Linked DNA regions of Homo sapiens. The protein of the gene in region 1 purifies or fractionates together with the protein of each later gene. This does not show direct contact. Each region holds a gene or a part of one and is shown in the gene's direction. Other genes may lie near its edges.

Region 1 (3,656 bases):
AATATGAGTCATTTGGAAGAAAAACTACTCTTAACTACCAAGATTTCCAAAAATTTTGAGACTCGGTTGCAAGACATTGAGTCTAAAGTTACCCAGACGCTCATACCTTATTATATTTCAGTTAAAAAAGGCAGTGTAGTTACAAATGAGAGAGATCAGGCTCTTCAACTGCAAGTATTAAATTCCAGATTTAAGGCGTTGGAAGCAAAATCTATCCATCTTTCAATTAACTTCTTTTCGCTTAACAAAACTCTCCACGAAGTTTTAACAATGTGTCACAATGCTTCTACAAGTGTGTCAGAACTGAATGCTACCATCCCTAAGTGGATAAAACATTCCCTGCCAGATATTCAACTTCTTCAGAAAGGTCTAACAGAATTTGTGGAACCAATAATTCAAATAAAAACTCAAGCTGCCCTATCTAATTTAACTTGTTGTATAGATCGATCGTTGCCTGGTAGTCTGGCAAATGTTGTCAAGTCTCAGAAGCAAGTAAAATCATTGCCAAAGAAAATTAACGCACTTAAGAAACCAACGGTAAATCTTACCACAGTCCTGATAGGCCGGACTCAAAGAAACACGGACAACATAATATATCCTGGTAAGCTGTTACTGAAAAGTAACTTTTAATCTCTCTTTTTACTTAAATGATATTTAATAGATCTGTACAGTTGAGCAAGACCATTAAACATAAAACTACATACTTGAACTTGGATAGATAGTCAAGTTGTGAAGATCACTGACATTATTTAAATCTGAATCTATCTTACAGTATTTCAGACATCAATACAAAACAAATATTTCTAGTGTATATTTGGCTATGTGTTTTTAAAATTTTTCTGACTAGACCTCTATAAAATAATTAAATTTGCTCCTATGGAACAATTTGCTTTGCACAAGTAATTAAACAAAGCTATTAGGCAAGGAGATCTTTAATAGACCAGATTTACTTATTTTGGCATTTTACCATATCTGATATGCAATAGGAACTCAGTAAATACCTGTTGAATGATCATCTGACAATGAATGTTCAGGAAATAGATTTGGGTAAATCATAGAAGGCCATCAATGCCAAGCTAAGTACTTAGACATGATTTTGTAAAGAGTAGGGTGTCTGAAAATTGGTATCAGTGGATTGGTTGTGATAAGAGCTGCAACTCAGAAGCATGAAGCTAGCAATAGTGTGTAGTGTGATTGCAGAGGTGATATTAGGGATGTTACTGAATGAATATTGGCAAGAGCCATAGAGGAAGCTCTAAGGCTGATGTGAGAAATGTTGGAAAGTTCCCATCAACAGAAACAGAGGGAGAGTGGCAAGAAAAATGATTTGAGGAACATCAAATCTTGATTCTGGTCCTAGATGTATTAGTAAGTTTCTGTGTTAGTTAATAGCACTAGGTAAAAAGTTCACCTCTCTAGGCCTTAGTTTCTTCCTTTTAAGTGATGAGATTGCAGTAGGTGATTTGCTGAGGTGCTTAGTAGAGATATGCCGAAGACTGCTTCACTGTAAAAAAATCCACGATCTGTTCACAGCCTTAATGCATGACACTTGGAGAAGAGAGAGATCTAGACTTTCCCGATGTTTTGAATTTGGGAAATGACAGAATAGTGGTACCATTAACAGATGTTCTAAACACCAAGGAAGAAGCATGTATTTGGGAAGAAAGAGGAATTGTGTGGTGCATATAAATTGCATAATAGTACCTCTGTATGAAGGAAGTGTTTTATGAATATGGTTGTCATATAAGTAATATTGAATAATCTTTTCTAAATATGAATATCTCTTCATTCTTACAAAAAGTAATGGCTGTGTTTTTCTCATATGAGTCTGCTGTTAAATTATAGCCCATTTGTATGAATTTTGTACTTTATTTCTTTTTAATTACAAAGGATGATCATTATTCTAACATAATATGACTTCATATTTAATGTATGAATGTTTTGATAATATTAAAAATAACAGAATAATAGAGTTGAATTATCTCTACTATTTAAATTAGTATATTTATTTATGACTCCCCCAGAGTAATCTGACCTAATAGAACTAATTTTACTTCTGTAGGAACATAGAAGAAACTATTTAGACGTATATGTTTCCCAGAGAAAGGTAGTATCTCAATATAAGATGTTCTTAAAATAACAATTTTGGGAGATATAAGGAGTTGTTTTTTCCATACTATTTCCATTATTGGTCTTCATGTGGACACTTCATCATGATCTTCAATTAGCTATACAGCATGTGTGACCACACACCAGGCAAGCTATGTCATTTTTTAAACATATATATATATATATATATATATATATATATATATTTAAAATATATATATGCTATTTTCATAGTAAGTATAAAATTGAAATAGCCTCAAATAAATTGAGGAAAAACATTTATAGAACATTAAGAACTTGCAAACTTTGATAATATAATGAATGCATGTTAGGACATTATAAAAATTGTATCTAGATACTTATTGTGATTGACTCAATATTGGGCTTAATAGACTAATAATAGGAAATAACTCAGTTTTGATTCTTATTTTCCAATAAGGCTTTGATAACATTGCTTCCTGTTCCTTTATTTACTGACTGTAGAACTTTTTATGTTCCTGTCTACCAAAAATAACTATTAAAGTTCTTTATTTTATTTAAGCAAAGATACCAATAATGATGCCAAGGTAATAAAGATATACTGACCTAATTCCCACGTGCAAGGTAGATATTCCTTTTATGCCAGGCCGGGCCAGCAACATAATGTATGGGACCCTTTTAAGTGGTTGCATAGGTTTGCATGCCCATTAAGCCAGCCATACTTCCATGGGCCATAGAACAGATGTCAATCATTGGGCAGCTCAGCAGGCAAGGTCTATGAAAGATGATGAAACCAGTGGACTCAGGCTAAGTTCTCCTGTAAGAATAGAACAATTGCAGAATAAACTACTACTTTTGATACCCTGTTTTATACCAGGGGTGGGACACACTGTTTAAATTTGGCTGTTTCATTTCACCTTTGATATTGTATAAGTATTATACAGCCACATTGCTCTCCCACATAACTAAAGCCAGAAGATAATTTATCATCATCTTATGAATCTCAGAGTCATATTATTCAGATTCTAGCTGCCATCATTTGCAAAATAAGTACAGTATATAGAAAAAAGCATATAAATATAGTGTTTTAATCTTAATTTTAATAACTGATAACTTACTTTGAAGCCTGATAATATGAATACCGTAATAATACGACATTGGTTAGTATTCATTAACATTTACTATATCTCAGGCACTGTGAAAATTCCCAATATTCATAACTTCATTTAACAATACCTGTGAGGTAAGTATTATTATTTATTCTGAAGATGAGTAAACTGACCCTCGGAGACATTAACTAAAGTATCCTGCCTAAGGTCATTCAACTAGTAAGTGATAGAGCTTGGCTTCTGGCCAGCTAGACTCAGGGCTCAGTCCTCAACCACATGCTCAAAGAAATTATAGAGTGTGTTCACATGCCTTTCTCTTCTTTCTGTTTCTGTTTCATGCATCATATGTTCTTCAGTCTGGCCATATCTGAATATTCCATATGGCTGGAGCCGATATTTTTAGGGAGTTTCTTTTCTTGAAGATCCAAATACTGACAAGTTGTTTCTGCACATGAGGAA
Region 2 (3,557 bases), on another chromosome or scaffold:
ACAAATAATTTCTATCCAATTTGGAAGTACACTTTGGTGTAGTTGTGACAGCTTCCTCAGGACTCAGCATAAATTCAAACAAATAATTGTCCTTAGAAGAGATGCTATAGAAGAGATAGAAATATATTCATATTCTGTAGCTTTTTTTTTTTTGAGATGGAGTTTTGCTCTTGTCACCCAAGCTGGAGTGCAGTGATGCAATCTCAGCTCACTGCAAACTTTGCCTCCTGGGTTCAAGGGATTCTCCTGCCTCAGCCTCCCGATAACTGGGACTACAGGCTACAGGCATGTGTCACTACTCCTGGTTAATTTTTTTTTTTTTTTTAAGACTGAGTCTTGCTCTGTCTTTCAGGCTGATGTACAATGGCTCCATCTCGGCTCACTACAACTTCTGTCCCCCAGGTTCAAGCGATTCTCCTGCCTCAGCCTCATGAGTAGCTGGGATTACAGGCATGTGCCAGCACACCCAGCAAATTTTTGTATTTTTAGTAGAGATGAGGTCTTACCATGTTGGCCAGGCTGGTCTCAAACTCCTGACCTCAGGTGATCCTTTGGCCTCAGCCTCCCTAACTGCTGGGATTACAGGCATGAGCCACTGCGTCCAGCCTAATTTTATATTTTTGGTAGAGATGGGGTTTCACCATATTGGCCAGGCTGGTCTCGAACTCATGACCTAAGGTGATCCATCCTCCTCAGCCTCTCAAAGTGCTGGGATTACAAGTGTGAGCCACTGGGCCTGGTGCTTTTTTTTTTTTTTTTTTTTTTTTTTTTGAGATAGGGTCTCACTCTGTCACCCAGGCTGAAATGCAGTAGTGTGATTTTGGCTCATTGCAGCCTTGACTTCCCAGGCTGAAGTGATCCTCCCACCTCAGCCTCCTGAGTAGCTGGGGCTACAGGCATGCACCACCATGCTGCGCTAATTTTTATATTTTTTGTAGTGGTGGGATTTCGCCATATCACCCTGGCTGGTCTGGAACCCCTGGGCTCAAGCGATCCACTCGCTTCAGCTTCTCAAAGTGCTGGGATTACAGGCATGAGCCACAGCGCCCAGGCTGTAGCTCTCTTAAGGAGGAACATATCTCATCTGAGACAAACCTGAAATGCCAAACCAAACTGAGTTAGCCCCTCTCTGTCTGTTGTATATATTGGAGTAATAACCTATTTGTCTTGATAAAGGGATTGCATGCTTGAATTGCAAAAACCTTTATTTCTTTTGGGTTGCCCAATGTGCAAGACTAAGAGTTATTTTGATAAATTTCTCACCAGGCTGACTGTCTCTCTGTGGGGTCGGGGGAGTTTTCAGGGTCTCACGTATTGCAGGGAAGGTTTGGTTGTGAGATCGAGAATAACAGAAGCAGCGGAGCATTCTGGAAATATTACTATGATGGAAAGGACTACATTGAATTCAACAAAGAAATCCCAGCCTGGGTCCCCTTCGACCCAGCAGCCCAGATAACCAAGCAGAAGTGGGAGGCAGAACCAGTCTACGTGCAGCGGGCCAAGGCTTACCTGGAGGAGGAGTGCCCTGCGACTCTGCGGAAATACCTGAAATACAGCAAAAATATCCTGGACCGGCAAGGTACTCACTGCTTCCTGCTCCCCAGTACTGAGCCCAGAATAAAAGACGATCTCAGGCTAGGAGCTCAGGCAACATCTTAGTCCGGTCTCATCTGTTCCTGGATGTCCCTCAGACCCCCAGCTTTCATCTTTTAGGATTTATTCCTTCCCTGGGATAATATAATTTGTGGTCCAAAAAGAACATCATCAAAATTTCAGGCAGAATGGGCCAGGAAGGCCATTCTTTCTTGATGAGTGTCCCCAAATCATCTCCAATTAACAGACAAGGAGCTTGAGGTTAGGGAGGTGAGGGTAACACTGTCTGTAAGAGGCAGAGCTGGGACTCAAATTCCAGATTTCAGATTCCAAATCCCATCGTTTTTTATCTCTACAATGATGCCTCCCATCTGGGTGGTGGAGAGAAGGGAGGCGTGTAAAATGTCAGCCCCAGAAGGACAAGAGCAAGCCAGTGTGAGCGGAATTGATGGCTGCAAGCTGAGACTTGGATTGGAGACGTAGTGAGACTCAGGATTGTGCAGTGCTGCAGGGAAGTGGTTGCTGGATAGAGGCATGGGCTGAACCAAGCAGCTGGACTGAGACTGGGGGACAGAACTCCAAAGCCCACTGAGATGTGGGAAAACATGGAGAAGCACACGGAGCATTCACAACTTATTGCCGTCAGAGTCAATACATGGGTGAGGTGGGGATTGGGCAAGAGGGAAAGCGTCAGCCTTCCCTGATATTCTGGAAAGTCTCCCGGGGCTGGGGGTGGGCAGGTACAGAGCTTCGAGCTCTGCTGATCGCTGACATCCAGGGGTGGGGGTAGGAAGAGACCTGGGCCGGGAGAAGTCCACCTCAAGCCTGCAGTGTCACACTCTATCCCTCCACAGATCCTCCCTCTGTGGTGGTCACCAGCCACCAGGCCCCAGGAGAAAAGAAGAAACTGAAGTGCCTGGCCTACGACTTCTACCCAGGGAAAATTGATGTGCACTGGACTCGGGCCGGCGAGGTGCAGGAGCCTGAGTTACGGGGAGATGTTCTTCACAATGGAAATGGCACTTACCAGTCCTGGGTGGTGGTGGCAGTGCCCCCGCAGGACACAGCCCCCTACTCCTGCCACGTGCAGCACAGCAGCCTGGCCCAGCCCCTCGTGGTGCCCTGGGAGGCCAGCTAGGAAGCAAGGGTTGGAGGCAATGTGGGATCTCAGACCCAGTAGCTGCCCTTCCTGCCTGATGTGGGAGCTGAACCACAGAAATCACAGTCAATGGATCCACAAGGCCTGAGGAGCAGTGTGGGGGGACAGACAGGAGGTGGATTTGGAGACCGAAGACTGGGATGCCTGTCTTGAGTAGACTTGGACCCAAAAAATCATCTCACCTTGAGCCCACCCCCACCCCATTGTCTAATCTGTAGAAGCTAATAAATAATCATCCCTCCTTGCCTAGCATAACAGAGAATCCTTTTTTTAACGGTGATGCGCTGTAGAAATGTGACTAGATTTTCTCATTGGTTCTGCCCTCAAGCACTGAATTCATCTGAAACTCTTGGTTTCCCCTGGAGGCCATGGTTCCTGGGCACCTTGACCTGGGCAATCCCAAGTGTGGCCTGAACCCCCTTTCCCTTGGGGATTGTTCAGGTGTCCCTAGACGCCTTGTGGTATTGTACCTAATACCCATGAAGGGAGAGGATGATATTACTTGCCAGTGTACACCCCCCTGTGATATTGTTCATAATGTCCAGAGTGAAGAAAGATGATATTACTCCCAATATCACAGAAGGTGTACACCCCCCCTTGATATTGTTCCTAATACCCAGTTGGGGAGGGGAGAATATCTCTCCCAATATACAAGGGGTGTTTAAACTCTCTGTGATATTGTTCCTAATATTCAGGGGGGACAAGGATGATATTACCCAAATATTGCAGGGGTTGTACACCCCCCCTTTGATATTGTTCCTAATATCCAGGGGTGGAGAGGATATTACTCCCAATATTGCAGGGG
Region 3 (3,656 bases), on another chromosome or scaffold:
TGGTGGGCTCATGATAAAAATCTCCACTTTTAGGCTGGGCACAGTGGCTCACGCCTGTAATCCCAACACTTTGGGAGGCCAAGGCGAGTGGATCACCTGAGGTCGGGAGTTCGAGACCAGCCTGGCCAACATGGCGAAACCCCGTCTCTACTAAAAATACAAAAATTAGCCAGGCGTGGTGGCAGGTGCTTGTAATCCCAGCTACTTGGGAGGGTGAGGCAGGAAAATCACTTGAACCTGGGAGGCAGAGGTTGCAGTGAGCCAAGATCATGCCATTGCACTCCAGCCTGGGCAACAAGAGCAGGACTCCATCTCAAAAAAAAAAAAAAAAAAACTCCACTTTTGTATATCTTTACATTTTCCACTGGATATAGCCTCGACTGTACTCACCAGGTTCTCCACACCCTAAGCCACATGCCAGATTTGTTTAGCAGATTCAGTGGAGCAGGTTCATTCATGGGGGCACCAAACCAAAAGTCCTTTTAAAAACAGTTACCTATGATTTAAAAGTGTGAAGTGATTGTAGTATGATGGGGAAACAGTGGGCCAACTATCATGAGAATTAGGAGATCTGGACAGCTACATGATCTCTTTGATCATATAGTTTTCTTACTTGCTCAGTGCAGCAGTAGTGCCAACCTGTCCTCAGACGGGGATGTAATAATTAAAAGAGGTAGCAGGGGAAAATTCTACAAACCATGGAGGGTTGTGCAAATGTAAGGAATTATTATTTTTTTTTATTTTTATTTATTTATTTTGAGACGGAGTCTCACTCTGTCACCAGGCTGAAGTGCAGTGGCACGATCTCGGCTTACTGCAACCTCTGCCTCCCAGGTTCAAGTGATTCTCCTGCCTCAGTCTCCCGAGTAGCTGGGACTACAGGCATGCGCCACCACACCCAGCTAATTTTTGTATTTTTAGTAGAGATGGGGTTTCACCATGTTGGCCAGGATAGTCTTGATCTCCTGACCTCATGATCCGCCTGCCTCAGCCTCCCAAAGTGCTGGGATTATAGGCATGAGCCACTGTGCCTGGCCAGGAATTGTTATTATCTTGGATGTCTTTCTATTACAATTACCACTACTACTGCAAAAATCCTAATTGCTAATAAAGTATTTTTAGGTTTTTAAAGGATTTCATAGAGTATGATTGCTGGACTGAGCACAGAGGTAATAATTGGTAGAGCAGCAGTTAAGAAGATTGCTCTACCACAGAATTAAAAGAATGTCTTCGCATAGTCCAAGAACTCCAGCTGAATTTTGAAACTCCAAAAGCTCAAGGAACACCAGCTTCACATTTGCCTGCGGGAGGGGTGTGTGCACACATTTTGATTTCCAGCCCTGGAAGTGGAGAATGGTTTATTAAGTGTTTCTCCAGGACATCCCTTCCAAAGGGTTGACAGCATGTTTGAGCAACTACCTTGGAAACACTTAAAACCTACTGAAATGTAGGGGAGTACAATTATTTCTGAACTATGGGCCAGAGTGAGAAAGTTTGCCCAAGTCTCATGATTATGTTCCAGTTCTCTGCTCTTCAAAACACTCTGCTAAGGTGACCACACTTGTTTTTCTCTCTCAGGCCATTCTGTCATTTAGTTGCATAACCTCAGTTCTATTCTTTCAATAATATACATAGTTCACAGTGCCTTCGGGGTAGTTTCCGTATCAAGGTTTTGGTTTCTTCTGATACAAAACACACACACACACACACACACACCCCTTCCAATCCTAGAGGAAAAGAGTATACTAAGTAGAGTTAATAAAGAAGCGTTAGATCCCAGACCATTCAGATTTAGCTGGTGGGACTGTGAGGAGTGTGATCATACAGAAATGAACCTCTCACAGGTGGTTAAGTATGCTGGAGTTGGAGGCACAGCCTGTGTTTGAATATCAGCTCTACCACTTCTTACATGCTGTGTGAGTTTAGACAGGTCACTTAATTAAGCTAAACTTCCTCATTTGTGAAATGGAAATAATAATAGTAACTGCTTTGTGGAACTGATGAGAAGATTACATCTATGAGAAGCACTTAGCACAGTTTCCAGGACAAAGTGAGTGTTCAAAAAATGTTAAGGAGTTACCGTTGTGGTTATAGGTTGGTGGGAAGCAATGTAAATTATTTTATTACAATGTCTCTCACCTGACTTCTCTTTGGCTAACTCAGTGGCTCTCAACTTGGGGTGATTTTCTGCCCCTATGGCAGAAAATGTGCCTTTTTCAGTTGTCACAGCTGGGGAATGTTACTGGCATCCGGTGGGTAAAGGCTAGGGATGCTGCTAGACATTCTACAATGCACAGGACAACCCCCACAACAAAGAATTATCTAGCCCAAAATGTCAACAATGCTGAGGTTGAGAAGCCCTAGAAACTAAAACAGTGTGGGGTTTGTAATTTATTGAAACCATGTAACAACTTTAGTTATTCAAAGACACATTTACCTGGGATATAAAAACTCTAAAATGTACTTCAATTGTGGAAAGAGGCATCAATGATTAACCATAATCATTTCTGATCATGACCAAGTCACCCCTGAGACTAGTAACTGCAGGTGCTCACAAAAAAATATGCAGCTGTCCTTCCTGCCTTCAGGGGATCATTCATGAAAGTAATTTCTCACCTGACCAAAATGATCGCTTAACATTTATTGCATCATTGCCCCTGTTTCTGTAGACTACTCTACCGAAGTTTTAATTTGTCACTAGTTTAAAGGGCCAAAAGATCTGTTTTCTTCAGATATTAGAGACACAAACCAAGCATCTCCCACTTTCTTGGAATTCCTTCTCAAAAATGACTAAAGTCTGAGACTGTTTTCTTATTTAATGTCTATTGAATTCTGTTTTACAGAATTTCAAAAGAGCAGGTTCTTAGCTTACTTTTCAATGGAACATTTTAGCCAGGTAGTATAAGTACAGGTGCGGGTAACCTCAGATAAATCAAGGTGTTATGCAGCTGTCTCTATATTAAAAATATTTGCTGACATCAGTGTAGACTTCATCTTGTAGTTCTTCAGTGTTTTCTTTCCTTATCTTTTGCTCATAAGATGGCTTTGTGTTTGGTTTGATATTATACTGAGAAAGCATATTAGAATCAAAGCACCAAGATTTCAAAAGTCCAGACTACTCTTCCCAAAGAGAAATGTGCAATCACAATAGCATGACATGGGTACAAATATAGAAGTATGTTATTAAAGTATTGAGAATTAGCTTTCCTAACCTCCCCACCTGCAATCTTTTACTCCTAATCTCCAAAAAATGAACAAATCATTGGCTCAAAATGGTCACAAATTGTATGTGGTGTTAAAAATCTATTATTTTTATTGTATATAAAATGTTGCCAGGTGTGGTGGCTCATGCCTGTAATCCCAGCACTTTGGGAGGCCAAGGCAGGTGGATCACTAGGTCAGGAGTTCAAGACCAGCCTGGCCAACATGGTGAAACCCCATCTCTACTAAAAATACAAAGATTAGCTGGGTGTGGTGGCGTGTGCCTGTAATCCCAGCTTCTCGGGAGGCTGAGGCATGAGAATCACTTGAACCTGGGAGGCAGAGGCTACAGCGAGCCAAGATGGTGCCATTGCACTCCAGCCTAGATGACAGAGCAAGACTCAGTCTCGAAAAAAAAAAAAAAGTTATACTAGTTGGGCACGGTGGCTCACACC

The links.
Region 2: the proteins of MMRN1 (region 1) and AZGP1 purify together in Homo sapiens (affinity purification with mass spectrometry; one large-scale study listed by BioGRID and IntAct). This does not show direct contact.
Region 3: the proteins of MMRN1 (region 1) and ACP3 purify together in Homo sapiens (affinity purification with mass spectrometry; 3 studies listed by BioGRID and IntAct, with this or other methods). This does not show direct contact.

The regions. Positions count from the first base shown.
Region 1 is NC_000004.12:89,936,198-89,939,853, forward strand, and holds part of MMRN1 (multimerin-1 isoform 1 precursor), read left to right. Parts: coding exon 1-601; intron 602-3,656. UniProt on the Homo sapiens protein: Carrier protein for platelet (but not plasma) factor V/Va. Plays a role in the storage and stabilization of factor V in platelets. Upon release following platelet activation, may limit platelet and plasma factor Va-dependent thrombin generation.
Region 2 is NC_000007.14:99,966,177-99,969,733, reverse strand, and holds the end of AZGP1 (zinc-alpha-2-glycoprotein precursor), read left to right. Parts: intron 1-1,303; coding exon 1,304-1,579; intron 1,580-2,447; coding exon 2,448-2,731; 3' UTR 2,732-3,004; downstream 3,005-3,557. UniProt on the Homo sapiens protein: Stimulates lipid degradation in adipocytes and causes the extensive fat losses associated with some advanced cancers. May bind polyunsaturated fatty acids.
Region 3 is NC_000003.12:132,323,904-132,327,559, forward strand, and holds part of ACP3 (prostatic acid phosphatase isoform PAP precursor), read left to right. Parts: intron 1-3,656. UniProt on the Homo sapiens protein: A non-specific tyrosine phosphatase that dephosphorylates a diverse number of substrates under acidic conditions (pH 4-6) including alkyl, aryl, and acyl orthophosphate monoesters and phosphorylated proteins.